Linked DNA regions of Homo sapiens. The protein of the gene in region 4 interacts with the protein of the main gene of each other region in a pairwise test. Each region holds a gene or a part of one and is shown on either strand. Other genes may lie near its edges.

Region 1 (7,337 bases), on a different chromosome or scaffold from region 4:
CAGTTTGTGCTCTCAGCCTTTTGCTATATTGTCTCTCAATGAGGTTGAAAAGCAAGTTTGACCACACCTGACATCTTTTGAAACATTTCTATGTCCCCAGACCCTCTCCTGAGTACAAAATACATTAACAAGAAGAGAGAGCAAACAATTAACTTCAATTTTGCCACTGACTAAAGCCTGAGATGTTTCAAATTGGAAGGAGAAAAAAAAAAAAAAAAAACTTTGGGAAAGTTCCAAACAAGGAATGTTTTCTTTTTAATGAGTGTCAGCACTGCAGTATGACAAAAGAAGTAGAGATTACGAGAAGGAAAAAACTTCCTCCAATCTTTCAGGCATATAGGTTTGCAAGGAGCAAAGTAACACAGAAACTGGCACTTCATTTATATATCATGTCATATAGCTGTCCCTTAACTGGCATTACATAGGAACCAAGAGTCATTGAGAAACTAAGCTATGACTTCCAGAAGGAAAAAAAAAAATCTCGAATGAGTCACATTGACACCACTTGGTAATTTTCTATTACAAGAAATGCAGGCAGACTGTAGTTAATTTGTAGCAGCTGCTGAATGCCCGTTAGGGTACCAACCACCCCAAAGGAAGGAACCACCTAGGCTGCTGGCTTTTGCCTGAAACAGGGGTTCGACCTTTTCATGCCTGTCTACACTTAGAATGAAGCTGTGGTACAACCGCTCCCATTGCTTGCTCATTTATTTATAAAATAAAATATCACTTACTTATTTTTAAAGGGTGGAATAAAAAAATAAAAAAATTAATTTTTGCTTTAAAAAAATAAAAAAAAATGAAGGGTGGAAATAAGGCAACTAAATCGTAGAACGCAAGTTCCAGTTAATGAACAGATCAACTCTAGAAATAACTCAGAAGGTAACAGCAAGATCTATGATTCTAAAGGATAAAATCCTTAAAGGCATTTGCAAATGCATTTGAAAGATAGTACAATTTTCCTGTTGCCTAATTACAGCGTTTCTCCTCAGAGGCAGGTAGGCAGGTAGGTACTGTAAGAGCGAGTGACAGAAACTCAGGAATTTTATTTTACATAGCGATAATCTACTTGCTGCTAACTGCTAAATTTTTTGTTCAGGAAGATGGTAAGCTTACAGTAGCATTAATAAATTGAGCTGCAAAAACCGTAGCAGTATATTCTTCGAAACAAATATTGCTTTAAAATGCTAGATGGTTCATGGTCAATTGTGGTCGGTAATGGTGTTCTAAATATAGATTCAGAAGATTTAAGTATAAACATAGGGCACAATATGTTTAAATACAGATAGATGTGCAGTAGGCACTGAATTGCTTTTGACAGATTGATTTGACATCCACCTCATTCCAGACTGCTCCAGGGGCTTTTTAGCATTTCTCTGAATAGTGGGTAAAGCCCTTCTTTCCTGTATGTTCCTTCTCGGTGCTAATCTCCAGGCGAGGAGGATCTCTTCCAGGATTGTGTCTTTTCAGAACTCTAAGCCAACAGGAAGAAATCTAAATAAAGCGGAAGGCTGCCCTTCTCCAGTTTTGTTCCTTAATCTAAGGAGGCCCCTGTAGCGCAGTTTCTATAGTTGGCGACAGTCTCCCTGCAGATTTATATATAGTAACATTGGTTAAAAAAAATCACTTGACAAAGTTTTCTATTTCCGTAACATTGTGTCAGGAGGGAAGCTTAACGGAAAGTCTTCCCAGGGATGAAAGTATTTGTTTCTATTTTATATGTTAGTTTTAACTCCTTAAATTCATCTCCTATGAGAATAAACATTCTTGATCTGACTCAATGTGCTCTCTGAATTCACTGAAATAAAATATAGCCTGTAACTCTGACCAATAACCTGGGGTGCCTCCCAGAACTGCTGGCTCCAGGTGATCTACAGATTTCCCAAGAGAAGCGCTGCAGCTCCTACCCACCAGCAATCTAAAATCTGCAGCAATTCCGCAGGACCACACCTAGGCCCAACAGCACATACCTGCAGAGCCGGAAGCGCCTTCCCCTCCAGGGCATCTCCTGTCCCCAGGGAAGGAATTAAAGTTCTAACCCCTGCCTCTCCTTCTACCCATCCTAGTATCTGCTTTTCCTTTACCTCGTCTTCCACACTTACTTGCCCCCGACGCTATTATGTAGCTTGTAAACTCGTGACTCTCAAGGAAAGTATCAGCAGAAGCCACAACTTCGGGGAATGACTCACTAAGGAGTCTCCAGCGCCTTCCACCGCCCTGCAACTGCCCCACTACTGTAGCCCTACGGCTCCGTGCTGCCACCCCACATAAAGAAGGGGCATTTTCTGAAATCCAAGGAAGAACCTGAAGAGTCCCCCACCCGCCTAGAGGCGTCTCTTGCTCTAAGTCAGCGGTAGGAAATGACCACCTTCCCAGTACAAATGGACAAACGATTCTAAGAGGCAGGAGGAAAACAAACACAATTCCTTCAGAGGCTCTCCCGACCGTCCCTAGCAACACATCCCCACCGCAGCGGGTGCATTGCTCACAGGCCACTTCTGAAACCAGTGTTACTGATCAGGCCTGCACAACCACTCCCCCGGCAGTGTCCGGCTCGCCATCCTCTGCGCCGGAACAGCAGAGGGCAAGGTCGGGTGGTCTCCGGAAGGCAGAAAGGTGCCCCCAGACTGCAGAGCCCGGGGACAGCAGGAGAGGAAAGGAAGGAATGGAGGAAGGGTTGACCTTGAGAATTTTCCTGAGTTACACATAAATAGGTCGGGCCTCGCTTAGACGCTCCCAACCCACTCCACCAGGGAAAAGATGCAAGGCAAGGGGAGAGCAGAGAGGGTGGAAATTCAGATCGCTAATTTACTGATAAGGGTGGGGGGAGGTTAGAGACAGCGGGTCTCTATTCAGCTCGCATAGGCTGAAATATGGGAGTGCCCTGCGCAAAGGCTGAAGTGCCCCCGGCGGCCCGGTGCTCGTGGCTGCCCGCAGGTGCTAGCACTCACCTGGATCACCTTCGAACAGCTGGAGCAGAACAAAACTGCGCAGCGCGGTGTGGGTGCGGCGCCCTCGCCTGGGGCGGGGCTAGATGAGGCCAGAAGCAGGCCCCGCCCCAGCCGACCAGCGCGCGGCCACGCCCCCAAGGCGGGGCTCCTGGCGCTGGCGCGCGCTGTCTAAGTTGCCAACTCAGGGCCACTGGTTGGGAGGTGGAGGCCTAATTTTCTTCCTGCTCATGGTCGTCCAGCGATTTACTCCTCTCATTCTCAAAAACATATATCTACTCCCCCAGGTGCCTTCGTGGCCATCTTCCTAAACTGTCCCAGCCAGGTCATACCTCCCGGATTGGGTTTGCAGAACAGTGGGACGTGAATAATTTGTCCCCAGCAGAGCCACCGTAGCGGTTTTAGGCGCTCTGCTGTAAGGGCGAAGCACGGGCATGCAAGGCGCGTGCGCGAAAGTAGCCGCGCCTCAATCGATGTGTCCCTGAGGCGCGTAGCTGGGGCGTGGGCGGCGCTTGGTGTCCCAGGTTGCTACACTCCCGAAGTGAATGGATTTATCGCTGTTAGGGCCTTTTTGTTTAGGGCCTAACAAATATTGTTAGTTTTGCCGAGAGCTGGCGCCGAGCCCTGCCCTCGTGGTGGGCCGTACCCACGCCCCCTGAGCGCGGAGTCGCGTGGCTCCGGAGTTTTGTTTTTTTGAAAGGAGTCTCCCAATTGTCCGTGGAGTTTTTTTTGCGGCACATGGAGTCTCTGCCTTCGCGACCCAGACCTTTGATGTGAACACCTGCTCCCGTTACGCTCGGGTCCAGCGTCCGGGGCGGGGCTCGAGGCCGGGTGGAGGAGGGGTGGGGGCGGGGGTCTTGGTCTTGGGTGAGACCTGCAGATACGGTCGGGCTGAAGGAGTAGAACTGGCTTCTAAATGCCGGAAAATCCGAAGGAACTGACTGCAGAAGGCACGTTTCCAATTTTCGCGTGTTTTAAGTGCACCCTCCCGCCACCTCTCCTCTGGACATCCCTCATCCTTTTGAAGATTGCCACACCTGGGCCCCTCCTAGAGTCTCCTCTTTGGAGGATTCCTCACCTCCGAGAGAATGCTTAGGAACCCACCTGAATGATTCCAAGTTAAGGTGTGGAAAGGCAGAAATCTAGATTTTTGAAGGCTCTAGGTTATGTGTGTGTTTCTTTTTATTGGGTTGTCATATTTGCACATCTAGAGGTACTTTGAGAGCTCATTAAATCTTTACTGTTGCTGTTTCAGCAATTTCCAACCATTCTCATACTTTCTGTCATGTTGGGTTTCTGTCATGTTGGATGTAGAGAGGGCTTTGTTTTGCTTGAACATTGAAAGGAAGTAAGTTAGGGAGACAGTTTTGCATTATTGAGGCAAGTTTCTCCACTTGCTGGCTGTTCTACGTAAGAAGTCATTCCAAGGTGGTGGAAGGGATGATTCAAAAATCAGGAGCGGGGATGCACCTTGCACCCTCATTTTACACCGGAGACTGCAGTCTCAAAAAAAATTTGGCCTCTTCTTTGCCAGTTATCTCTGACCACAGACAAGTACTTAACCACTGAGGACCTTCTTTTAAAAATCTTATTACAAAAGCAGTATTCCTTTATATTAGAATTTTCGGAGATACAGAAAAGCCCACAAAAAAATTACATACACACACAATAGAATCATACTGTATATTCTGTTTTGTGGTCTGCTCTGTTCACTTCATAAAATGTAAACCCTTTTTTTGCTTTTCATTTCTTTTTCTTTTCTTTTGATACATAAACCAGAGTGTCACTTTATTGATTTGCAACTGGGAACCTAAGTATGTTGTGGACTAGAAAACTCCTGTCATGCACTCAGTGTATTTTTTTCATGTAGGACGCTTTTCATTTCTTGAACGGTTCATGCTGCAACATTATTTGGCAATCAGTGCATGTCTTTTCATAGCATGGATGTACCAATCCTCTTGCTGGAGTTAGCTTGCTTTCACTTCTTTCCTATTGCAGTGTACAATCTTGTAGATAAATCTGTGTACGTGCTTATGATTTCTTTTTTTCACTGAATTCCTTTGCAGAGGAATTTCTAGGTTTTGATCTCTGTCAATAAGATGCACTCCAGGAAGAGAGTTACAGTCCTCTCCCACACTGGATATTGGATATCATTTTCTTCCATCTCTCTAAAGGGGAATAAGACCTTTCTCACAAAGTTATTGTGAAGTTCAAGTGAAGTGAGGACAAAGTGCTACACAAAAGTCCTGCCCTTTTGTCTCAGGATAATATATTTTGCAAGTCCTATTGAGGTGGGAAGTTAAAGAAAAAATTAAAAAGAGAAGTAAGTTTTCCTGTATTAGGCTGACTTGTTCCAGAGGCAGCAATGGGCACAGCCCAGACCCAGGGAAAGTCTTGATAATACTATCTAAGGAGCCAGGACACAAAGGAATGTGCTCTGGAGACTCTCCCAGCACTCCCTCCACATAGGGAGAAGAAAAACAAATTTTCCTTTGTTTTATGGTATGAGTTTATGAAAATTCCTGTTCTCTGTAACTGGTGACTTCAGGTATTCTGTTTTATCTAAGCAGTAGAGTGAAGGTCATAAACTGTCTGAGCAGGCCACCTGGACGCTATAGTGAAGGTCATGGAATAAGCCGTGCTAGGCACTAGGCAAACCTAGATAATGGACATCTGGGTTGCATAGCAATGGTCATGTGTAATCCTGAGTTATGAACCTGTTACAGTTTAATTAACTGTCTTTGTCCTGCCTCTGTATCCCTGCTTTCATGCCACTGTAAGCCGGCTTCAGGCTGGTCCACACCCCTTTTTGAGGTGTGTATAAAAGTCAAGTGCTGTCTTTGTTCTGGGCCCGGTCTTTGGATGTTAAGTCTGCTGGGTCTGAGTGCACTCAATAAAGATATCCTTATGTATATACCCCAAGGCCTCTCTCTGGTCCTCCTGATTCCACAACACTATTACAACAATATAAATTATGGATATGTAACACTTGCTCAGAAGTTAGTCTGTACTTAACTTCAGTCACCATTAATTCCTTCTCCATTTACAATCTGGCTTCTGCTTCCAAACGTCATCTCACACTGCTCTCTCAAAGGTCACCATTTGCCTTGTAAACGCTCTCTATCCTTGGATTCTCAGACATTGCTATGTCATGATTGTTTTCTTTGTTGCCTCCTTTCCTGGTCCCTTTTTGTCTCCCTACCTCTTAAAATGTGTTCAAGGCTCTCCAGAGTGCTAGCCTCTATTTTTCCCCCTCATTCTTCTATGAGTCGTTTCTTTGACTCTCCCTTAACAATTTCCCCCGTTTCTGTGAATATTTTGGTTGTCTAGAGTCAAAATGCCCTTCTTTTTTTAAGGAAAATCCCTTATTTTAAAATATGTTGTTTGAAAGTAGGTACCTACTGTAAAAAAGTTAAAAGGCCAATTCTCCCTCTCCCTCACTTCAGAGGAACTAAGGGGGTGGGCATGTGCCTTCAGCTTTGCCAATCAGATGCTTGCTCCCAGGCCTCCGATTCTTGAGGAAATTAACAACAACATGGGGACATTTGGAGATCTCCATTCATTATGGTGGCAGCAGTGGGAAGACCAGATCTCTCTCAGTCTTTTCTGATTACTCCGTTAAAAATTACAGCCTCCCTCTTCTCAAGGAACTCCTTATTCCCCTTCCTTGTTTTATTTACTACCATTTTTGGTAATAAGTAAAATTTACTACCCTTTTGTATTTTTGATTTAATTAACATTTGTTTTATTATCTGGCTTTCCTACTCAGTAGTAAGTTACATGAAAATGGAGATATAGTCTGTTTATTGCTGTATCCCTATTGCTCTTAAATGCCTGGCATACAGTAGACACTGTATTAGTCAGGGTTCTCTTAGAGGGACAGAACTAGGGGAGTTTATTAAGTATTAACTTACACGATCACAAGGTCCAACAATAGGCTGGCTGCAAGCTGAGGAGCAAGGAGAGGAGACCCAGTCTGAGTCCCAAAACTGAAGAACTTGGAGTCCGATGTTCAAGGGCAGGAAACATCCAGCAGGGGAGAAAGATGTAGACTGGGCGGCTAGGCCTGTCTCGTCTCTTCACATTTTTCTGCCTGCTTCATATTCACTGGCAGCTGGTTAGATGGTGCCCACCCAATTAAGGGTGGGTCTGCGTTCCCCAGCCCACTGACTCAAATGTTAATCTCCTTTGGCAACACCCTCACAGGCACACCCAGGATCAATATTGCATCCTTCAATCCAGTCAAGTTGACACTCAGTATTAACCATCACAGACACTCGGTAGCTATTTGTGAAATGAATACATATGTGACTTCTTTCCGTTGCCTAGCCATCTGGAACTCTCTGACTTCTTGGCCTTTTTATGAAGCCTGTACCTCCAGCCTAACTG
Region 2 (7,229 bases), on a different chromosome or scaffold from region 4:
AGAGATGGGGTTTCACCATATTGGCCAGGCTGGTCTCGAACTCCTGACCTCAGGTGATCCACCTGCCTCAGCCTCCCAAAGTGCTGGGATTACAGCCATGAGTGACAGCACCTGGCTTTTTTTTTTTTTTTTTTTAAGTAGATATGGGGTTTCACCATGTTGTCCAGGCTGGTCTCAAACTCCTGACCTCAAGTGATCCAACCTCTTTGGCCTCCCCAAATGCTGGGATTACAGGCGTGAGCCACCACGCCTGGCCTAGCCTGACCTTGATCTCTGGTCAGTCCTCACCTTCAAGCTGCTGAATCTTGATTTGCTGCAAGCAGCTCTCCTTCTCCAACATGGTCACTGAGTGGTTCAGGAACTCGAAAGCCTGGGGGAAAGAGGTCAGCCTTGGGGTGGGAGGAAGGAGGGGAGGGCAAGGAGAAACAGAGGTTGCTGGGGGCAGGGCCAAGGTGGTTCACCTTGGTCTGGGCCTGTAACTGGCTCTTGAGTGACTCAAGTTCACATCGCAGGAGCTTCTGGGAGTCGGGAATCATCACAATGGTCTTGGCTGTGGGCAGAGAAGAGGGTGAGCCAGGGCTGTAAGGGGTGGGGTCTGGGGCAAGGGCAGGGCAGAGGTCAGCAAAGGCTCAGAGTAGCAGTAGGGACAGGGGATAAGATATAGAACAGGGGCCCACTCAGCCTTGGGCAGGAGTGAATGGGTGACCATGGCAGGGGGACAGCTGATGCTGGGGCAGAGGGTAGAGGTAGAAACCAGCAGGTCTTCCCCACACAGTTTTGTTGGAAAGGAGATTTCTCACCTTTGACTTTGGAAGAGCTGGTCTCCAAGGGCTTCTAAGGAAGAGAGATGAGATGGGAGTAGAAATTTGTCCCTGAGCTGCCTCCTTGCTCACCTCAACCCAGTTTTGAGGGCTGGACAAGAGTTGGATCTCCTCAGTTCTAGGTGTCCCAAACCGTAAGTGCAGGCAAAGCTGCACTCCAGGCATATTCATGCACCTCCCCCTTGGGCTACATATGCTCAGAAGTGCACTTATGTGGCTGAGAGACGATCACAGCCAAATCCCCATGGAAGACACACAACCACACTCTTTCCTTCCATTCATTCCTTCATCCATTCATTTAAGACTTGCTTAGCCAGGGCCTGCTGAGTGCCAGGTGCTGTTCTAGGTGCTGAAGAAACACAGTGGGTGCATTCATGGGAGTCTCTCTGCCTTACAGCCCCTTCCCTAAGCCCCACAGCAGTAGATTGCAGTGGTTTTCTGCATTGAAGGGGTTTCCCGGGTGGGGGTGACCTTAGCTACGTTGTGATGCCTCTTCAAAATGTCCTGGTCATTACAGCACTGCTTCTGCAGGTCTGGACTGGGGGAGGGGGCAGCCTCATGTGGCGAAGGCCCTGAGCCCCACCCTGGCCTGCAGTCTGCAGTCCTCACTGTGTCCCCAGAAGCAGGGCATCCCAAGGTCTCTGGCTCTGGAGTCCTGGACCAGTGAGCTGTACGCTCCAGAGCCTTGTCCGAGGAAGAGCCTAGGGGTGAGGGCTTCCTTGAGGGACAGTGCAGGGCACTCCTCACATTCCCAGCCCCTCCCAGTGTCCCCAGCCCTATGGGAGCCCCCTAACTAACCCCAGTACTTGTCACACTTCATGTTAGCAGGCAAACACATGCTGGAGGGTGAGGGAGGTGAGTAGAGGCAGGACACAGAGTAGTCAGGGTCCCGGGGTAGGCCGGCCAAAAGAGGGTCGCTGTGAGTAGGGAAGCAGGGGCTGCTTTGAGATAAGTCCCCATGTCCCCAGTGCCCCCAGACCCTCCCTGACATGCCAGAGAGGCCTCAGCCCTAAACTCAAGGCTTCTCAGTTATGGTAGGAGCCAAAGCTGGATAAAAGATGATCCCAAGGCCAGACGCGGCCAGCAATGGTGGCTCACGCCTGTAATCCTAGCACTTTGGGAGGCCAAGGCGGGAGGATCACTTGAGGTCAGGAGTTCGAGACCAGCGTGGCCAATATGGTGAAACCCCGTCTCTACTAAAAATACAAAAACTAGCTGGGCATGGTGGTGGGCGCCTGTAATCCCAGCTACTCGGGAGGCTGAGGCAGGAGAATCACTTGAACCCGGGAGGCGGAGGTGGCAGTGAGCCGAGATTGCACCACTGCACTCCAGCCTCAGCAACAGAGTGAGACTCAGTCTCCAAAAATAAAAAACAACAACAAAAAAGATTATCCCAGCCCCAAGGTTTGGGCTGGGCAGTGAGAAGGACCCAGAAGGCCCCAAAGAAAAAAAATCAGGCCTCAGAAGAGTCCAAAGAAAAAAGGGACCTTGACATTGGCTTAAAGGAAGGCCTTTCCTGGCAGGGAGCAGCATGTGCAAAAGCTTGGAGGTGTGGAATCACATGCTCTATGCTGGTAAATTCATGATGGCTGAATCGAGGTCCGAGAGGAAGCAGCAGGAGGTTAGCAGAGCAGCTCCAGTAAGGCATTGACGGCCAAGCCAGGAGTTTCGACCTGGCCCCACAGGTGAATGCCAGCCATAGAGTGTGAGCAGGAGAGGCAGGGCATATCTGTTCAATAAATGTTAGCTGAATTGGGGCCCAGACCCGTGCTAGAAGAGGCTGGAAACAGGAAACAGCTGAGCTCTGGGTCTCACATTCAACTCCCCTCCCCCTCCAGTATAGCCACATATGGCACAGATGGAGATATCTGGGGCAGGTCTGCCTGGAGAAACTTCTAGGTGAAAGGCACCTTGCCCTGAGTCACACTCAGCCTCTTCCCCCAAATCCTCTAGACCTTTCTCTCTGTCACCCTTGCCAGGCCCTCTGCCTGATTCAGTCGACCTGGAAGACTCCTACACGCTCTTCAGAACTACTCAGGCTGGGCACGGTGGCTAACACCTGTAATCCTAGCACTTTGGGAGGCCAAGGCAGGTGGATCACCTGAGGTCAGGAGTTCGAGACCAGCCTGGCCAACATGGAGAAACCCCATCTCTACTAAAAATACAAAATTAGCCAGGCGTGGTGGCGCATGCCTGTAATCTCAGCTACTTGGAAGGGTGAGGCAGGAGAGTCGCTTGAACCTCAGAGGCGGAGGTTGCAGTGAGCCGATATCATGCCACTGTGCTCCAGCCCGGGCAACGAGAGCGAAACTCCGTCTCAAACACAAACAGACAAACAAAAACTATTCAGCATATCTTCAGTAAAATCTTCCTTAATCCTTTTTTAGGCTCCTATTTTCTGAGCACCTAATTGAGTGCCGGGCATCCCCTAAGCATTCACTGGATCTTCACACCCACCCTGTGATGTACACGTTTTTCTTCTGCCTGAAATGTCCTAAGCTGCCCCTCCGAGAGTCACTGCCTCAGGGAGGTCCTCACTTCCAGGGACAGCAGAGTATGACGGTTAAGCAGGGAAACTCTCCAGCTAGATGGCCTGGGTTCAAATCCTAGCTCTGTCCCTTCCAGCTGTGTAATACTGGTCGCGTTACTGAACCTCTCCATGCCTCAGTGTCCCCAACTATAAAAACGAGATGTCATAATAGTCACCTTACTGGGATGTTGTGATTAGATAAATTAATCCATGCCAGTGCCTGGTATAGAGTAATGGGGAGCTGTGTTTGCTCTGGAATGTCACGCTGAGAACCCGGGACTTAGGGACCATAGGAAGCCTGGGAGGCTTGGAGGGGAAAAGGAGAGGCATTTGAGAACCAGCTTAGGTCCCCAGTAGTGCCTCCTCTCTCCCCGTCCCATCCCGGTTGCTGCTTCCGTGTCCCTCCCGGGAGAATTATTTAGGGAGGGGGCGGGGTCATCATCCTGGCTCCGCCCCCTGGGTTGTGAAATCTACACCCGCCAGGCTCCAGAACCCCACCTACCACATACCACCTGTTCATGCTCTCCCATCAGGGACCACGAAGCCAGTCCTCAGCTGTGACGCTGAAGTTTGATCCCGCGGGGACACCATCGTATTAAAACGCTCAGAGACTGAGTCACAGAGAGGGGTGTGGCCGGCATTTTAGTTCCGCCCCTGCCGGAGTAGCCGAAGGCCTCATTGGCGCCTTCACGCTTCAGCTGCGCTTAGTAGCCGCGGCGTAATTGGATAAAAGCCCGTGGAGGGGGCGGGATCCCAGGGGGGTTTCTACGATTAGTCAATACCCAGGAGGGCGGGATAGAAAGGTGCAGATCTACGACCCGATTGGCTTCGGGCTCAGCTGGGAGGCGGGACGAATTATTGGTTGGGGGAAACCCACGAGGGGACGCGGCCGAGGAGGGTCGCTGTCCACCCGGGGGCGTGGGAGTGAGGTACCAGATTCAGCCCATTTGGCCCCGACGCCTCTGTTCTCGGAATCCGGGTGCTGCGGATTGAGGTCCCGGTTCCTAACGGTGGGATCGGTGTCCTCGGGATGAGATTTGGCGTTTCCTCGGGGCTTTGGTGGGATCGGTGTCCTCAGGATGAGATTTAGGGTTTCCTCGGGGCTTTCGGGATCTTCACCTAATATCCGGTATTATTTTATGAGAGGAGTGGTCTTGGCTGTCAGAACTGGATCCCTGGGGTGATATTTGGGAATTAGTGGAGTGATCTCTGAAGACCTAGGGCTATGATCTGGAGCTGCTGTGGCTGAAATTTGGGGCCTCTGAAGTGGCATGGAGATTGAGGTCCAGAGAGCCTGAGATCTTGAGGGCTGACATTTGGAGAGATGGGGTCGAGGGTTGTCTTTGGGCCTTGACTGCTTTGGGCCTTTCTCACTCTCATTCCCGGGATGCTTTGCCAGAATCTCTGCTGGATTGGCCGTAACCCTGTCCCCGAGCGGGCTCACAGGGTCTGAAGGCCACGCATGAGGCAAAGGTAAAGTTCTGAGCCACCCGGTGCCTCCTTCCCAGGACTGCAAGATGGAGGAAGGCGGGAACCTAGGAGGCCTGATTAAGATGGTCCATCTACTGGTCTTGTCAGGTGCCTGGGGCATGCAAATGTGGGTGACCTTCGTCTCAGGTAGGGACCCTCAGCTTGGATGTCATGGGTACCTGGGGTGGGGATGGAAATAAGAGGGGAACCGGGAAGTGCCCTAACACCCCTGTGGTCCCCATACCCTGCAGGCTTCCTGCTTTTCCGAAGCCTTCCCCGACATACCTTCGGACTAGTGCAGAGCAAACTCTTCCCCTTCTACTTCCACATCTCCATGGGCTGTGCCTTCATCAACCTCTGCATCTTGGCTTCACAGCATGCTTGGGCTCAGCTCACATTCTGGGAGGCCAGCCAGGTACGTGGGTTTGAGTGCCACTGCCCTCTGGAGACTTGTTCCCAGGACCTCAGTCAGCGCCTATGGCTACACCTTTTCCAGGGGGGGAAAAAAAAAGGCTAGGCATGGTGGCTCACGCCTGTAATCCCAACACTTTGGGAGGCCGAGGTGGGCGGATCACGAGGTCAGGAGTTCAAGACCAGCCTGACCAACATGGTGAAACCCCGTCTCTACTAAAAATACAAAAAAATTAGCCAGGCGTGGTGGTGTGCACCTGTAATTCCAGCTACTCAGGAGGCTGAGGCAGGAGAATTGCTTGAACCGAGGAGGCAGAGGTTGCAGTGAGCCGAGATCATGCCATTGCACTCCAGCCAGGGCGACAAAGCAAGACTCCATCTCAAAAAAAAAAAAAAAAAGGAAAGGAAAGGAGAGGAGAGGAAAGGAGAGGGGAGGGAAGAGGAAGGGAGGGGAGGGGAGCCCCTTCTTCCTGGTAGATACAAAGCTGGGCTCTGGATACCCTTGAGCAGTGCACAGCCTGTACAACAGTCCCCAGCAGCCCTGTCTATCCCCCAGCATCTCCCTGCTAGCTGCTGTTCCCTCTCCTCCCGCTGGCTGGGCCTGCTGCCAAGCTGTGGTGACTCAGCTGAGCTGGCACATTGACCCCAGCTTATTGTTTAAAAACCAGCCCGACTGGGAATTTATGGTTTCCTATCCCCTTCCACACATTTTTCTGGCCACAAGGCAAGAAACTATCTCTGCATCTCAGATTTCTCTATTTACTCTGGCCTTCCCTTGCCTGCATTATGTTTCATAGACGTGGGTAAGTGAGACCTGACAGGTGTTTCAAGAATAATCTCACAGACAGGAGGGGATTATGGGTAACTAGAACTTCACAGACTGTTTTTTTTTCCTTTTATTTATTTATTTTAATGAAACAGGCTCAGAAGGTATTCAAATACTTAAAACAGATAGAGATGGTGTTATAGCAATGTGAGAATGGCAAAAACATTTTTCCTAATTAAAAAAAATAGGCTGGGCGCAGTGGCTCATGCCTGTAATCCCAGCACTTTGGGAGGCTGAGGTGGGTGGATCACGAGGTCAGGAGCGCGAGACCATCCTGGCTAACATGGTGAAACCCCGTCTCTACTAAAAATACAAAAATTAGCTGGGTGTGGTGGTGTGCGCCTGTAATCCCAGCTATTTGGGAGGCTGAGGCAGGAGAATTGCTTGAACCCAGGAGGCGGAGATTGCAGTGGGCCAAGGTCACGCCATTGCACTCCAGCCTGGGCAACAAGAGTGAAACTCAGTCTCAAAAAAAAAAAAAAAAAAAAAGATGAGGGTCTTTGCTGTGTTGTTCAGGCTGGTCTTGAACTCCTGGCTTCAAGTGATGCTCCCACCCCCATCTCTGAAAGCACCGGGATTACAGATTACAGGCATGAGCCACCATGCCTGCCTTCAAAGACTTTTTGTTTTGTTTTGTTTGTTTTTGAGACAGGGTCTTGCTCTGTCGCCCAGGCTGCAGTGCAGTGGTGCAATCTTGGCTCACTGCAACCTCTCCTTCCCGGGTTCAAGCAATCCTCATGCCTCAGCCTCCTGAGTAGCTGGGATTACAGGGGGACAGCCCCCACACCTGGCTAATTTTTGTATTTTTAGTAGAGACGGGGTTTTGCCCATGTTGCCCAGGCTGTCCTTGAACTCCTGGCCTCAAGTGATCCACTCACCTCAGCCTCCCAAAGTGCTGGGACTATAGGCATGAGCCACTGCGCCCAGCCACTCAAAGACTTTTTATTCACCCTCTGTGGGTCCAATGTCAGCTTCAGGCGTCTGGGCTGTGGCCACTGAGGAAAGAGATCCTGCTCTGGGGACTTCCAGTCTGAGTATCAGAGGAGAAGAGGCTCGGGAGGTTTTGCGGGGGGATAGAGGAGGTGGGGATGGAGCCTTTCCTTCAGAGCTGCCAGTTTCAGAGTAGAAGAGCTGGAGTTCTGCTTTGGGTCCCTCAGTCTGGGTTCAAGGA
Region 3 (7,800 bases), on a different chromosome or scaffold from region 4:
TCACTGAGCTACTTGCAATCTGGCTCCCCACCTGCACCAAAATGTCTTCAATCATCTTCTAAGTTGTAAAATAAGGCAACCATCCAATCTTAATTTTTCTCAAGGTGATTAGTAAATTTGACAATAATGAACCAAGACCACTTACTAGTCCTGTCCTGTGACCTTGGGCAAATTAGGTAACCTCTCTGTGATGCAGTTTTATCAGCAGCAAAAATTAAAACAGTAGGTCTTCCAATGAGTCCAAGAGACAATGCATATAAAGCGCTTAGTTAGCACAGGACCTGGCATGTAATAGCTACAAGAAACTAACAATTATTGGGCACTTTCTGTGCCAAGAACTGTGTTCAAAGCATGCTACCTGCTCTCTACATTTTCACTTTAATCCTTACCACACCTTCGTGAGGTAGGTATTATTTTATCACCATTTTATAGATAAAATAACTGAGGTTTAGAAAGATTAAGCAACTTGCCCAAAGTCTAATGCTTAATGTTAAGTTAATGCTTAACAAATGCTAAGTGGGGAAGCCCATGCACTCATCCATTATATTACACTATAATTATAAATAAAACCCATAATAAGTATTAGAGTACAAGGAGAATAATTCCTACAGTTTACCTAAGCTCTATGAAAAGGTATTCCACGAGTTGTCTTTATCTTCTTATTTCCTGTTTATATTCTAGCAACTGCAATCTGCATTCTATTGTCATCACTGCACTGAACTTACTCTTACTAAAATCACTAAGGAGGCTGGGTGTGGTGGCTTACGCTGGTAATCCCAGCACTTTGGGAGGCTGAGGTGGGCGGATCACAAGGTCAGGAGTTCCAGACCAGTCTGGCCAATATGGTGAAACATCTCCACCAAAAAAATACAAAAAAATTAGCCGGGTGTGGTGGCGTATGCCTGTAATTCCACCTACTGGGGAGGCTGAGGCAGGAGAATTGCTTGAACCCGGGAGGCTGAGGTTGCAGCGAGCAGAGATCACGACACTGCATTCCAGCCTGGGCGACAGAGTGAGACTCCGTCTCAAAAAAAAAAAAAAAAAAAAAAAAAAATCGCTATGGATCTCCAGCTGCCAAATCCAATAAACCTTTTTTTTTTTTTTTGGAGTTTATTTGACTAATCTGGAAGATTTGATACTTCTCTTCTTGAAATACCGCCTTTCCTTGGTTCTTGGAACTTAAATGCATTCACTCTGACAAGTATTGTGCATTCATTGTGCTAGCTGGTGCCCTTACCCCTGAGTTCATAAAACATAAAATTTAGTGAGGAATAACAACTAGTGTCCAAACCATCAAAAATTATGTGATAAGAACAATAAAGGGGGGAATACACAGTGCTATGAACTTCTAGAGAAAGGTGCTATCTAAACTGAGACCTAGAACAGGAGAAGGAGGTGACAAATTAAAAAATAGAGTGAGGGAGAGAGGGTCAAGGGAGGGGTTTTGCATAGAGAGAACAGCAACTCCAAAGACTCAACCAGGAGATTAGAAAAAATATGAGAATTGAAGCTGGAAAGTTTCCCAATAATGCCTTCCTTACTCCCTTCTAACGATTCCAGATTGTCTTGGGTGATCTTAACTATTTTCTGTTTTAAAAATATGCTGACATCCATCATCTCTATCTCTAGCCCTCTCCCCTAAACTCCAGGATCTAATTATCCAAGTTTACTGGTCATATCCAGTCAGAGAGTTCAGAGGCACATGAACTCACTCAACAGGTCCAAAGGTTCAGTATGTGCTCCTCACAACCCCCGCCCAAATACTAGGCCTCCTTTAATGCCTAATTCTCAGACATAACGTTTTAAGTCTCTCCCATTCTGCTGCCTTAAGTCTTCAAACTCTTACCCAATTTAGAAACACTTGGTTTAGTTAACATTCAGGAATTTACTTTTCACAAAGGAGCGAGGGAATGGATATACTGTTGCTAACCGAACAAGGAATTAAAGAGGAGAGGGGAAACAAGGTCTTGGAAAATTGAATTTCCTTTTCCTTTACTCATTCTTGGGCAACCTAAATGACTGGAAGCCTGTTCTGGAACAGGTTGACTAGATAAATTTAGTTATTTGTGGATTCTCAGAAACCTTGAAGTTTAGCTGTCAGCCAGTCTCTGTCCTTTGGCACTTTAACACGGATTTCACCAGCTCCTTCATTTTCTGGACTTGCCCTGCCTCCAAGCTTGCCCTTCCTAAACCTTATTTCTAAGATGCAATGCCACGATCTATATAAATTTAAACATCAGAGATAACCTCCTTAAAACACTCAAAGTTCAAGGGAGTGCTTGCCCTAAGCATAAAGATCAAGCCCCGCTGTGATTGATGCACACGAGGCCCTTCCAGACTTCTTCACTCTTCATTTCTTACATTCTCGCCATCCTACACTTCACATTTTTGCAGTATCTGATCACTCATGGTTGCTACTGCTTCATTCCTCTCTGCCCACGGAAATATCGTTCCCTTACAGGTGATGTCCTCCCATTCAACTCCTAGTCATCCTTCAGTAACCTCCTCTCGGACGCCCTTCCCAACCCCACTACTCCCAAAGCACACTACATCTTACCTCCTTCTAGTGGTTCCTGCTTTTGTATAACTTTCGCCAGCCTATCACCCTGTGCTGCAACTATCTTCTACGTCCTGTCTCCCGAAGACAACACATTTTAAAGGGCAAGAAACATGCCCTAGCCTAGTTCCATCACTTAAGAATTTCACTCCGTTTTCATCCTTTCTAGCACGTACCTTAGCCTAGGCCCACCTTCACTCCAGTCTCCTTCCGCCCCGTCTCGGGTACCACTGCCAGCGTCCCGCCCAGCGCGTGCATCCGCACCCAGAACCCGCTCCCCTCGATCTCACGGAGCACCGGGTGGGAGCCCGCCTGCTCCCCCTTCCTCGCTCATGAGCCACTCCTCCAACCCCCTCACCTGAACGGCCGCGAGATGACTGCCGGCCACCGACACCGAGGACTCGCCAGGTGTTCCAACCTCGGAACCTGCCTCGCCTGGCTTGGGGGTGGAGCCGGGTGGGCCAGGCGGCCCGTCCTGTCGTTATTGGCCTGCGAGAGCTCCCGCCCCGCCTTCTCGGCGCGGTGATTGGTCTGTGCAGTTGCCGACATCGTGTGACTCGCGCGAACGAGCTCCTGGCGGTCCCAGCCATTGGCTCCGCGGATGGAGTGAGGATAGTGAGACCTGCAGAGCCAGCCAATGGTCGGCACCGCGGAGCGCCCGGAGGCGGGGAAGCGTGAGAGCGCGCCACGGCGTGAGGGGGCGGGCACAGACGGATGGCCGCCTCGCCCTGCAGCGCGGAGTCGCCTTGGCAACTGCGGTCCCGGCAGATTCCCAGTGAGAGCCTGCGCTGTGCGGGGGAGAGTGTCGCGCCGGCCGCCGTCCCAGGACTTTTATTTCAAATGTGACCTGTGTAGCAACCGCAGTTCCCAAACCCGGGAAGAAGAGAGTATAGATGAGTCTTAAAATCTATGTTGACTGTTTTGTGTTTCCAGACACCCTTGCCTTCCTTTTTCTGGTCTACCATTTAGATTTAGATCTTTCGTCTCCCTTGTTTCCCCAGCCTACGTATCCTTTAATAAATTCCTGCATTTTGAAAACGGAGAATTTCAAATGCGATTATCGTCATTTTGCAGATGAGAAATAAAGGCTGGGAAAGATTTAAAAAGATTGAACATCAAGGGAGAGTTCGGCTCCCAGGACCTTGACCTCGCTACATGGGCAGAGAACGCCCAGGTGTTGTTGCAATTGTTGTGCTGGACGATGAGTGCCCGGGGGCGGGGGCGGGGGCGGGGGCTTGACGCAGGTCTTTGCAGCTCTAAAGCTCAGTTTACACCATCTCTCAACATTAAAATATTGTGTACTGGGGTTTAATAATAAAACTGTACAGATGTGATAATATACTAAAACTTTCACTTAACGGAAGAGGTGCCTTTAAAGAAAAAACCGCACAGGGGCATCATTTGGGCTAGTGAAGGCCCTTTTTCCTCCTTCTTTATTAAGGTATAATTGACAAAAATTGTGTTTACGGCGTACACATGTTTTGATTATGTGTATATTGTGTCAAATATATACAGCTTCTGAAAACAGAATACTATTGTTTCATTCCTCCATGCTTTTGCTCAAACTGGCCCTTCTGCCTGGAATAATCAGCCATCTCCATGCCGCCCCATCAATTCAGGTACTATCTCCTTGAGGAAGTTCCCTCTTGAAAAGTGTCTTTTTTAGATTCAGTGTGACCTGTACTTATTCGTCTATCCCTCATGTTTGGCACACACATTCTTTGTAAAGTATCATGACAGCGGTCACGTCAAATGAAAAGAAATGGGATCTGTCCCTTGGTTGTCAGAGTCAGCCCTGTCTTTAGGATGCCTTTACAGTGGTGTCTGAAACCATGCCTATATACTTTATGAAGTTAATCTGGGAAAAAGGGGTGGGGGGAACGAAATTAAACCAAGCTTGCAGCACACTGAGGATTAATAATTAGGTCAGCTTGCTGTCTGACCCCTTCCTCATAATTGTTTGCCTATTGCTTCAGAATCATGTAGACTCTGTTACAAGGTTATAGTTTCCCCTAACTGCTCTATAGACAACAACTTGAACATTATGAAACGTTAAGTTTGTGCTTTGAGATAACCTTTCAGGTCCTTCGTACTGATGAAACTACTGACTCAGCTGGTCTGACAAGGAGCTGACTCACCAAAGAATGCAGTTCCCACATCCTGATGGTTTCATTCCTCCTTACCCCAGCCAATCGAGGACCCTAATTTTCCAGCCCATTGCCCTCCAGGATCCCCTTAAAAGCCCCAGCACAGAACTCCTCAGAGAGATGAATTTGAGGGTTTCCTCCCATCTCCTCTCGGCACCCTGCCATCACTAAACTCTTTCTCTTCTGCAAACCCTGCTGTCTCAGTGTATACTGTGCAGTGGGCATATGAATCTGTTGGTCCTGTAGTGGATGCTGTGGCACACCACCCAGATCCCCCTCTTCAAGACCTAAGCAGGCATTCCTCCAGCTGCTGAGTACTGCCAAAGAGAAGCACCTCTCCCCACGGGTATACCCCCTTTCTAGGCAACAGCTAGTCAAGTAACTGGTTGAAACGGGTATAAAATCCCCTAAACCAATGTAGGGCTACTTTGCTTGGCCATCCCAGCTCCAGAGCTCCCCATCCTATTGGTTGTGTGATGACTGCACTGCCACCCAACTTTTCTCTCTGCCCAAACCTGCCATCCTCTATCAGGTGAGCATCAATAGCACACACTATCGGGCCACACTTACTAGGCTTGGCATTTTATTAGCAGTGGATAAGTTACTTCTCTGTCTTATCTGGTACTTCTGTGAAATAATAATACCTACACCTCGAAGAGTTATTTATGATGATTACATGAGATAACGTATGTAAAGCCCTTTGCACAGTCTCTGGCATACAAGATATGATCAGTAAATGTCAGCAATTATTTCTGATTTGGAATTCTACCACAGTATTACATTTTCTAAATCAGAGCAGGTGTAGGTGTATGGAGGGGTCAGATTATTTTAAACCTTAAAGGCTTAGAGCTGGAAAAAAATGCTGATGCAGCAGCTCAACTCACTTATTTCCCTACAATGAAGATTAACAGGGGGCTCAGGGAACAATAGCTGTAATTTATTGAGGGCCCGCTGGATTTCAAGCATATTAACATGCATCATTTCTTTCAAACGCAACAACCTTGTGACACAGACACTCCTATTGCCATTTTAAAAACAAAATAAGGATTAGAGGTTAAGTAATGTGTTGAAAGTCACAGCTAGCAATTGATAGAGGGAGCTGCAAACCCAGAACCCTTTTGTTTCTATGCCCATGGGCTTTCCAATATACCACATGGCTTTTTTCCTTAAAGCCAGGATTAGAACCCCAGAATCTTGACTCAAAATATAGTTCCATTCTCCAGCGTAGCCTCCTCTCCAAAATGAGACACTGGCAGCCATGGAAGTCAGTAGGAGGCAGTGTGCTTAAGACAAAACTAAACCAAGATGGTGTCAGCACACTGCTATGTAATTTCATGTGACCCTTTTACACCTCATAAAGTTAAGTCTCATAACGCAACAGCAGTTAGGATTACAAATACCTGGGTTCTTATGCTGTAAGGAACGATAAAGAGATAATAAATACCAGGAATCATACACCAGACTCCATAAGAAACAGGGAAAGAACTGATAGTCTTCTGACAGTAAATACACCTTCCGCCTTAACCACAGTCATCACTGCTTTCAGCCAAGGAGGCATAGATCCCAACAAAGCAGGCAGACGAGTTGCTTCACAACGCAGGTATGTGGATCCAGCCTTGAACTCTGCTCAAACGTGGGGCTGCTTCCTTGGCAGGATTTCTAAGACACCTCTCTGCCTTCTTATTTTTCATACAACAATGGAACAGGCTGAGAACACTTCCATATGCCTTTAAAAAAATTTCAAACTGGAAAGACAAAGGTTGGCATGGGGGAAGGAGGTATGTCTAAAGTCTCTGAAATCATAGCTATGAATCCAGCTACTGACAAACCTTGGCAATTATAGTATAGCTATTAAAGCTTCAAAGATTAAGAAAGTAAAGATAGAGGTATTTGACATGCTATGTAGTTAAGTCTTTGTTACTTTAATAGGCTGAGATTATATTTTAAGAAAAGCTTTAAGATTTTTCAGATAAATCTTTAATTGATAGATTCATATAGAACATTAGTGTTTGGAAGTGATCAGGACAGACAGAGACCTCATACATTTTTCTTGGTGCCTCTGTCAGAAACAGCTGACTACTCCAAGTTCATTAGACCTTCAATATGTTTGTTGACAATGATGTGCTGTAAGGCAGAAATTCATGTTTTCATCAACTGAGCATAGGCTTTTTCTGATTAAATTCATTTATAATGGAAAGTTCAACTAAGTATTAAATGTGGTTCCATGTTTAAATTTGAATCGAAATGTTATCATAGCAATCTTTCCTCTTGATTATCAACTGGTCTAGCAACAGCTCATGCCAACTTTTTTAATTCCTGAGGAATGGTCACAATATCCCATCACCTCCTCCTTCCCCCTCTTCCCTTCCTCTGCTGTGTCCAGCACCTCAGCTGCCTACCTGACTCCACTATTCCTATTTCCTCAATTCCTTTTATTTGGTATCAAAACCACAGTTTATTTCTCAGTTACTTTGGAGTAGGTATTTTTTTTCTTTGACTTTCCTTTTGGTCTAATACTACTTGTTTTATCCTTATCTCATGCCCTACCCATATCAGGGACACAAAAATATAAAAGGTTTAAATTTTACCAATCCTTGACAGACCTCTCCTTGATAGTTGAAGTTACTTTTCCTTGGAAACAGAACCATTTTTATTGACTTCGGTTATTCATTTAATAGTTTTGTCTTGTAGGTGAGGTCACTTTGGCAATAAATTAAAAATGCAGATTTGTGAAGTGACAAAATGCAAACTATAAAAGAGCAAAAAAACTAACAGGAAACTTTAACACAAAACTAAATAGATAAAAATCAAGAACACTGTGAAACAAATAATATACAAACTTTTATTCAAAGTTAATTCAAGAAAGACATGTTTTGGTCATTTTTAAAGTGAGATTAATTGAAGATCTCAGAAAAACTGTATCTGATCAACACACATGGCTACTCACAGAAAGTTCTCTCTTCTGTTAATAGCAGCTAAATTTATACACACAGAAAAAATTCCGAAGACCATGCAAATTCAATTGAATTCCATACATTCATTATATTCATCAAAAACCTGCAGTAATGTTCATGCCAAAGTGTTAATTTAAGAAAA
Region 4 (7,417 bases):
ACATAAAGTCAGAAGCATGAGTCCAGGCACCCAGATGACAAGCCATTGAGATAGCTGTTTAAATGGTTCCATTAATATTAACTTGCTATTTGTGCAATTGTTTTGTTGACTATTAGCTCTCACTAGCAGATAATCCAAGTGGGAACAAAGATTACAAAAAGTTTAGAGGGAGAAGAAAATCCTTAAAAATGAGAAAATGTCTACAAATGAGCCATCTTAATTTGTTTGTTTGTTTGAGACAGTCTTGCTCTGTCACCCAGGGTGGAATGCAGTGGCACCATCTTGGCTCACTGCAATCTCTGCCTCCCGGGTTCAAGAAATTCACCTGCCTCAGCCTCCTGCCACCACGTCCAGCTAATCTCATTTGGTTTCTGTTGGCAGGACTCCACGGTCCAGTTTGTGGGCGGCCAAGATTCACAAGATTCAGAGTTTGAGAATCAGTAGTACCAGAAACTGGTGACTGCCTTTGGCTGTCAATGGTTAGTTTTCCCGCACCAGCCCTCTCTTCCGCAATTACAAAGGCAATTTGCCACCCACTTCGACTCGTGGGGTCAGCATTTCATCTTGTAACTCTGTTAGTGACACATTTTGGATGACTCCCTGAATCAGAGGCCCTGGGGAATCAGTGCCACACAGGACAAACCAGGTGCCTGCTCTCATTGAGCTTGTACTCTAGTTGGGAAGGCAAACACCAAATGTATTTTTTAAAAGGTAATTATAATTTTTGAAAAGGTTTGGGAAAGAAATAAACAGGGTGAGTGAGAGAGAGAAACTGGCAGGAGGAAGTGATGACTAGATTATAGGGTCAGGGAAAGCCTCTCTTCAGAAGAGATATTTGTTTTGAGTCCTGAAAGGGTTCTTCATTAACTAATACTGAAGCAATTGATCAGCTAACTAGAAAAGAGAAACAAAACTATTTTAGGTCCTCATCTCACTCCACATACCCAAATAAATTTCACATGGATCCAAGAGTGAAAGGTAAAACCAGATAAAAAAATCAATGATCTGGAAAAAAGGATATATTTGATTTATGAGTGAAAAATAAAATTTGGAACTTAAGAGCAAATGGAAACTACAAATAAAGAATTGCACAGGTTTAACTATTCTAAAATAAAGATTTCTATTCACCAAAAACAACATAAATATAATTAAAAGTCAATGAGCATGGAAAATATCTACCACAACTATGAAATGATTAATGTACTTAATGTTTAAAATGTTTACGCAAACTGTCAAAAAACATTACACCTCATTAAAAATGGACAAATATGAAGAGATAATTCACAAAGAATGCAAAGTAGTTAACTAACATGAAAAAAAATTCTGTAACTTTTCTAATGTAATTAAAGATACGCCAAGTAAAAAACCAGAGTTTCCCTATCAACACTGTAGGTAAAAACACTTGATGATACCAAAAATATGGTTAAACTGGCATTCTCACACAATGATGGTGGATGTGAACATTTGTACAAACTTTCAGGGAGGCAGATTGGCAATAAACATTAAAAACCCTAAAAATAGTCATATCTCTTTGGCCCACTTTTATAAATCTATCCTAAGACAGCAATCAGAAATCCAGTCAATAATTTATACATAGGAATGTTCAGCACAGCATTACTTTTGGCACAAAATGGGAAGCAGCTTGAAAGTCCAATATCAGAAGTAAACTATGATGTATCAAGGATAAAATACTATGCATCTTTTAGAAAAAGCAGGTATAAAATCACTCTACATAGTGTGACTACATCCATATAAAGAGGCATAGGAGAAAGAGACTAAAGAAGTATTTGAAAATGTTAATGTTAGCTGTGGTAGCTCTGGGTGGTGACATTACAGGCAATTGTTCTCTATTTGCAGTAAAATATTTTTAGAATTATGTGCTACATTTATGAAAAAAAAAGAAATTTATAAAACAGGCATTCAAAACAGCCTTAGTAATTAGATAAAGCAGGGACTAAGCTGGAAAGAAAGTTGAGAAAGGGGAATATGTGCAAGATTGAAAAAATATCTCATGGACTGAGTCTCAGACCTGAGATTTTGGGGAATGGGGTATGGTAAGTGGATACTGAAAAATGCTCTTCAGTTATCATGAGGGAAGAAGGAAATATGTGTCTTTTCCCTCTTTCAAAGGAGCCTTTGATTTTATAGGCGAAGAAGCATAGTGGAAGTTATTAGTGAAACTAAGCCCACATTAAAAAAAATCTCTTAAAATATGCATCAAGAGAACTAAAATACCACCATGGATTTCCACTGGGGCATGAGGAGCAATCTGGTCTAATGACTAACATAAGATCTAAACATCTCTTAGGTCCCATTCTTTGAGGCAAGAACACAAGTTTTTCTGTTGATATTAATCTTCAGTGTGTATTTTAAAGTTTTATGATGTGTTCGTAACTACCATTGAATAGTGGTTTAGTTAGTGTTGGTCGGTGACCTGCTTTTGTTTACCTATTTCTGATGAACAGTGTATTGCACAAGCCACAGCCATGTCCTTGTACACACTGCGTGCAAGACTCTGCTGTGTGCAGTCAGCCCTGCATCGTTTCTAACCAGTTATACTGGCCTTACTTTCATCATCTTTGAGGCCAGAGCTACACATGTTGATGCCGAAGAGTGGAAGGAAGGAGAGCAGAGAGTAAAGGGGGTAGATTATGTAGATTATACAGACATGAGCGAGGGAGGGTCACAGATACTGAACAACCAGTGAGTTCCCCTATGTGGATTGCCAGAACATGAAATATCTGAGAAGAAAACAAAATTGTCTTACAAGGTAGTAGACGTCTGGGTAAGCTGTGATGCTTGCAGGATCGGTACTTACAGAAAGGAGGTGCAGAGACCACAGGAACACTCATGAAAAGGAGAAGCAGGAAATCAGGGTTGGTTGTTTGAATCTTCCTTCTCGCTGGCTTTCTAATGTCAGACTCCAGAAAGGAGGAGTGGAAGGGAAATGGCAGGCAGATGCAGTCCTGAGCTGGTGCCCCCTTGCCTTCGCAGTCGTGCCTAGTAAACAGCTCTCTGAACTTTGGTACATTTGTTCTGACTGATGTCACTATCAGCTGATTTCACTTTCGTTTCCTAACTTGCCAGTGGCCCATGACTTTTCAGAAATGAGGTATGTAAACAACTTTTTATTGTCCATTATGACATACTCTTTACCTACACTGTAGCCGGCAAACCAACTGATTTAAAGAGCCAGGTAAATGTCTTGATTATATCACACAATAATTCCAGAAAGGGAAGGAGCCAAAGAACTCTCGAAGCTCCCAGTGATTTAAACTGCAAGATAAACACAACCCGGAATTTTATTCAGAAGAAACCCATCAGGATCATCTGGTCCAAGCTCCCAGCCAGTGTGGCAGTCAGGACCCAGGTCACCTCCTACTCATTTCCTTGGGAAGCAGCTATGCCGTCTGTCCCCCAACCCCTTTTAGAGATCAATTTTGTAATGATGACTGGGCTTCTCTGGACACAAAACTTTGTGTCCTGAGCATTCTCACTGCAGTGTTTAGGCCCATGTTGGAGCAGCTGGAACATCTATTTTATTTCAAAATAAGAGCCGAACAAAGCTTTTATTTTTGTAAGCATTGGGGCTCCTGGCCAGAGTTTAAAAATTGCTTCCGTTGCTCACATGACCAACTGGAAATTTCAACTGTGGGTTAAACTTGGTTACATGAGACTGCTACCTAGTGCTATTGCTGAATCCTTCAGCGGTTCTCTTCTGCTTCCTTGCCCTTCCTCCAAAGGAGGAGTTATTTGAACTGCTACATTGCCCTCCCCCTGCCCCTAGTTCTTTTAAACGCAAACTCTAGAAAGAGGTGATGGGATCCAGGAGGAAGGAAGAACAGAGGCTTTGAGATCAGAGAGTTCTGCTACATACTAGCAAATTATTTAATCTCTTTGAGCATCAATTTCTTATCTGTAAAATGGAAACAGTACCTACTTTGCATGGTTGCTCTGGGGACTGGAGATAATATAAGTGCTTAGTACAATACTGGGACCATAGTAATGGTAGCTATTATTATGAAAAGTGGAATTTCTGTATATTTAGTCTAGCATCCATATTAATGCCTTTAAGACAGAAAATTAACTTTTAGATACTAATATACAGTAGTTACTCTGAAAACTCAATACTGGTGAGTGAAGTGATATAGAAGAGATAGAAACATATTTATATTTATGAAATTTATTCAAGGTTATCATGTACCTAGTTTTCAAAGAGTCAGTTTTTCAAAACTTACGAAAATCGGCAGTCCCACACTCTCCCTTTCTTCCTCTTCAGAGGCAAGCACTTTCACCTGTGCTCATTCTTTAGGCATTTACCTCAGTTCTCTAAATAACATGCTTGGATTGGTACTTCTTGATTTTTCAGTTTCAGGCATAATCTACTGACTCCCAACCATAAAAGGTGAAGATTTAGCTTTCTTCTTCCCCACTGCATGTTCCAGAAGTATGCTTCCTCTCTTCCTCCTCTATCCAAATTGGTTATAGTTTTGTTTAAATCAATATTCAGTGTTTACAATATTGGAATATGCACAGGTATACTTTATTTTATTGTGCATCTCTCTTTGTGGATCCTGCATCTTTTACAAATTGAGGATTTGTGGCATTTTTGCATCGAGCAAGTCTATTGGCACCATTTTTTCAATAGCCTTTGCTCACTTCATGTCTCTGTGTCACATTTTGGTAACTTTTGCAACATTTCAAGCTTTTTCATTATTATTATGTTGGTTATGGTGATCTTTGATGTTACTATTGTGATTGTTTTGGGGTGCCATGAACCGCACCCATATGACGGTGAACTTAATTGATAATTCAGTTCTGACCGCTCCACCAACTCTGTGTTGGTGTTCTGACCGTGTGTTCTGACCACTCCACCAACTGGACGTTCCTCCATTTCTCTCTCACGTTAGGTCTCCCTATTCCTGAGACACAATAATACTGAAATTAGGCCAATTAATGTCCCTACAATGGCCTGTAAGTGTTTAAGTGAAAGGAAGTGTCACATGTCTTTCATTTAAAATTGGAAACTAGAAATGATTAAGCTTAGTGAGGAAGGCATTGTGAAAGCAAAGATAAGCCAAATGTTAGGCCTTATGTTGTGAAGGCAAAGGTTCAGATGATTGTTAGCATTATTTAGCAACAAAGTATTTCTAAATTAAGGTATGTCCGTTAGGTTTTTTTAGACATAACAGTATCACACACTAAATAGGCTACCTTATAGTATAAACATGACTTTTATATGCACTGGGAAACCAGAAATTCGTGTGATTTGCTTTACTGTAATACTTGCTTTATTGCAGTGGTCAGGAACAGAACCTGCAACATATCTCCGAGGTGTGCCTGTAAATACCATTTACAGCAGCTGAGCCATGTAGAAAATTAAGATTACTTTTCCTATCCTGCATAACTTTTGATCTTCTCTGAAGATAATTGCTTTTTTTAAAAAGTTTGTTTGCTTGCTTGGTTTTCTATTGCTTAACACTAATCCAACCCTCAAATCTTTATCAAATCTTCTATGAATAAATTTCTATGCATCAAGTATTCTATATCTTCCTGAGAAAGGCTTTTCAGACCCTTCCAACCTGCCCCAGTCTGGGGCTTGACACCACACACAGCTGTTGTCCTGGCTTCTCACATCACCACCATGCTGGGGATTCCCTTTACTTCTGTCCTAGGTTGGATCTCCTGCTTCCTGCATCAAAGGCATTTCTCTTTCTCCATTTATTCAGTTCTGGGAGAGTAAATCTCCAGTAACTTCCTGAGAAATGGGTACACTGAAGAGAATTTTTTGAGAACTTACAAAACTGAAAATATCTTCATTCTAACTTGATCTATTCAAATGTGATCAAATTTAGACTGAATATAAAATTTTAGGTTAAAAATAATTTTCATTTATAATTTTGAAGGCTTTGTCCCATTATGTCTGGCTTTCTTGTTTTGTTGAGAAGTTTAAATTTGTTCTGCTTCCTGGCTTCCAAAATGGTCTCCTCTTGTCATCCTTTCAGCTTTATGCCTTAAAAAATAAATTATTTTGGTGGTTTTGAGAGGGAGCAAAATTGAATGTGTATCCAGTTTGCCATTTTTAACTGGAGGTCTAAAATATTTCTTTGTTCCTCTTCTTTTTTTTTTTTTTTTTTTTTTTTTTTTTTTACTCTTTTGAGACAGGGTCTCTCTGTCACCTAGGCTGGAGTGCAGTGGCACGATCACAGCTTATTGCAGCCTTGACCTCTTGTGCTCAGGTGATCCTCCCACCTCAGCCTCCTAAGTAGCTAGGACTACAGGTGCGTGCCACTATGCCTGGCTAATTTTTATATTATTATTATTATTAATTTTTTGGTACAGATAGGGTTTTGCCATGTTGCCCAGGCTGGTCTAACACTCCTGGGCTCAAGGGATTCACCTGCCTTGGCCTCCCAGAATGCTGGGATTACAGGCATGAGCCACTGTGCCTGGCCTCTTTCTTATTCTTTATCTTCCCTTTTTCTTTTTTTTGTTTTTACTCCAAGAGGGTTATTTCTTACTGTCTCTTTCACTGGTTCTCTGGCAACCTAGCTGGCCTATGGTTGAGCTTGTTGCTTTTATCAAGCTACTCATTTCCTCTTAATTGCTTACTGTCAAAATCTCCATTGTTTTTGGCAGTACTCTTAACCTTGAACTTCCCCACACTCTGTTCCAAACAAGTCAGTTTACTTGAGGACAGCTTCAGAGCTCTCTGTTCTTAAGGCATGCCTCTCCTCTGGGCAACATATCTGAGCCACTGCTCTGGACCTGGGGTTGGTGACAGTGGCTTGCATCTTCTAGAGTGACCCATCTACTTTTTGAGCATGGTCCTGAGTGGCGTAGTAGCCTCTGGTCTTTTCAACTTCAGCTTGACTCTCCTGGCATGGAAACTCCACACTATGAAGTAGCTGGAGAAAAGGTGACCAGGAATCCAGTATTCCCAGCCCACTGAACCTTTGCCTTATGGTTGAGTGGAGGAAGGGAGTCCCTGACCTCTTGGCCTCATTAGCCTCAAATGTTGTTTCTGCTTCACAGCGGTAGGGAGATGAGAAACGCTGGCAGCCTTCTCCTCCTAGGGGAGATACCATAGCCCTTGACTGGGAGCTGGAGTGACTGTGATCCCAGTGTTCTTGGCCATATCCTCCCACAGTGGAGTTTCCCTTCTGCTGAACATGGGGGAAGGGAAGGAGTGGGCCATGGCTAAGTACCAGAGACCCTCACTTTTCTTACAGGAATTTAGTAAATTTTCTGAATAAATATGTCTTTATTTGATGTATGTCCTTAGGACAATTTTCCTAATGGTTTTTAAAACTTTAAATGGGTTTTTCTAAAAAATATTTCTACCAGGTTCCCCTCCCTGCCCACCACTGGGGAGTGGGTGAGAAGCTTCTCAGGGTGCTGTTTTAGAGCTGGATCT

Evidence for each region.
Region 1: the proteins of TMEM140 (region 4) and MGST3 interact in binary tests that used the Homo sapiens proteins (3 or more experiments, as listed by UniProt).
Region 2: the proteins of TMEM140 (region 4) and TMEM205 interact in binary tests that used the Homo sapiens proteins (3 or more experiments, as listed by UniProt).
Region 3: the proteins of TMEM140 (region 4) and MSMO1 interact in binary tests that used the Homo sapiens proteins (3 or more experiments, as listed by UniProt).

Annotation. Positions count from the first base shown.
Region 1 is NC_000001.11:165,626,908-165,634,244, reverse strand, and holds the start of MGST3 (glutathione S-transferase 3, mitochondrial), read right to left. Parts: upstream 3,012-7,337; 5' UTR 2,952-3,011; intron 2,015-2,951; exon of another isoform or gene 2,006-2,014; coding exon of another isoform or gene 1,971-2,005; intron 1-1,970. UniProt on the Homo sapiens protein: Displays both glutathione S-transferase and glutathione peroxidase activities toward oxyeicosanoids, as part of cellular detoxification as well as synthesis of bioactive metabolites.
Region 2 is NC_000019.10:11,343,259-11,350,487, reverse strand, and holds the start of TMEM205 (transmembrane protein 205), read left to right. Parts: upstream 1-4,219; 5' UTR 4,220-4,868; coding exon 4,869-4,968; intron 4,969-5,072; coding exon 5,073-5,236; intron 5,237-7,229. Other genes in the region: CCDC159 (coiled-coil domain-containing protein 159), read right to left, coding at 289-370, 462-550, 801-834, 1,405-1,522, 3,861-3,871. UniProt on the Homo sapiens protein: In cancer cells, plays a role in resistance to the chemotherapeutic agent cisplatin.
Region 3 is NC_000004.12:165,322,880-165,330,679, reverse strand, and holds the start of MSMO1 (methylsterol monooxygenase 1), read right to left. Parts: upstream 3,012-7,800; 5' UTR 2,916-3,011; exon of another isoform or gene 2,734-2,915; intron 1-2,733. UniProt on the Homo sapiens protein: Catalyzes the three-step monooxygenation required for the demethylation of 4,4-dimethyl and 4alpha-methylsterols, which can be subsequently metabolized to cholesterol.
Region 4 is NC_000007.14:135,143,672-135,151,088, reverse strand, and holds the start of TMEM140 (transmembrane protein 140), read right to left. Parts: upstream 3,018-7,417; 5' UTR 2,819-3,017; intron 1-2,818.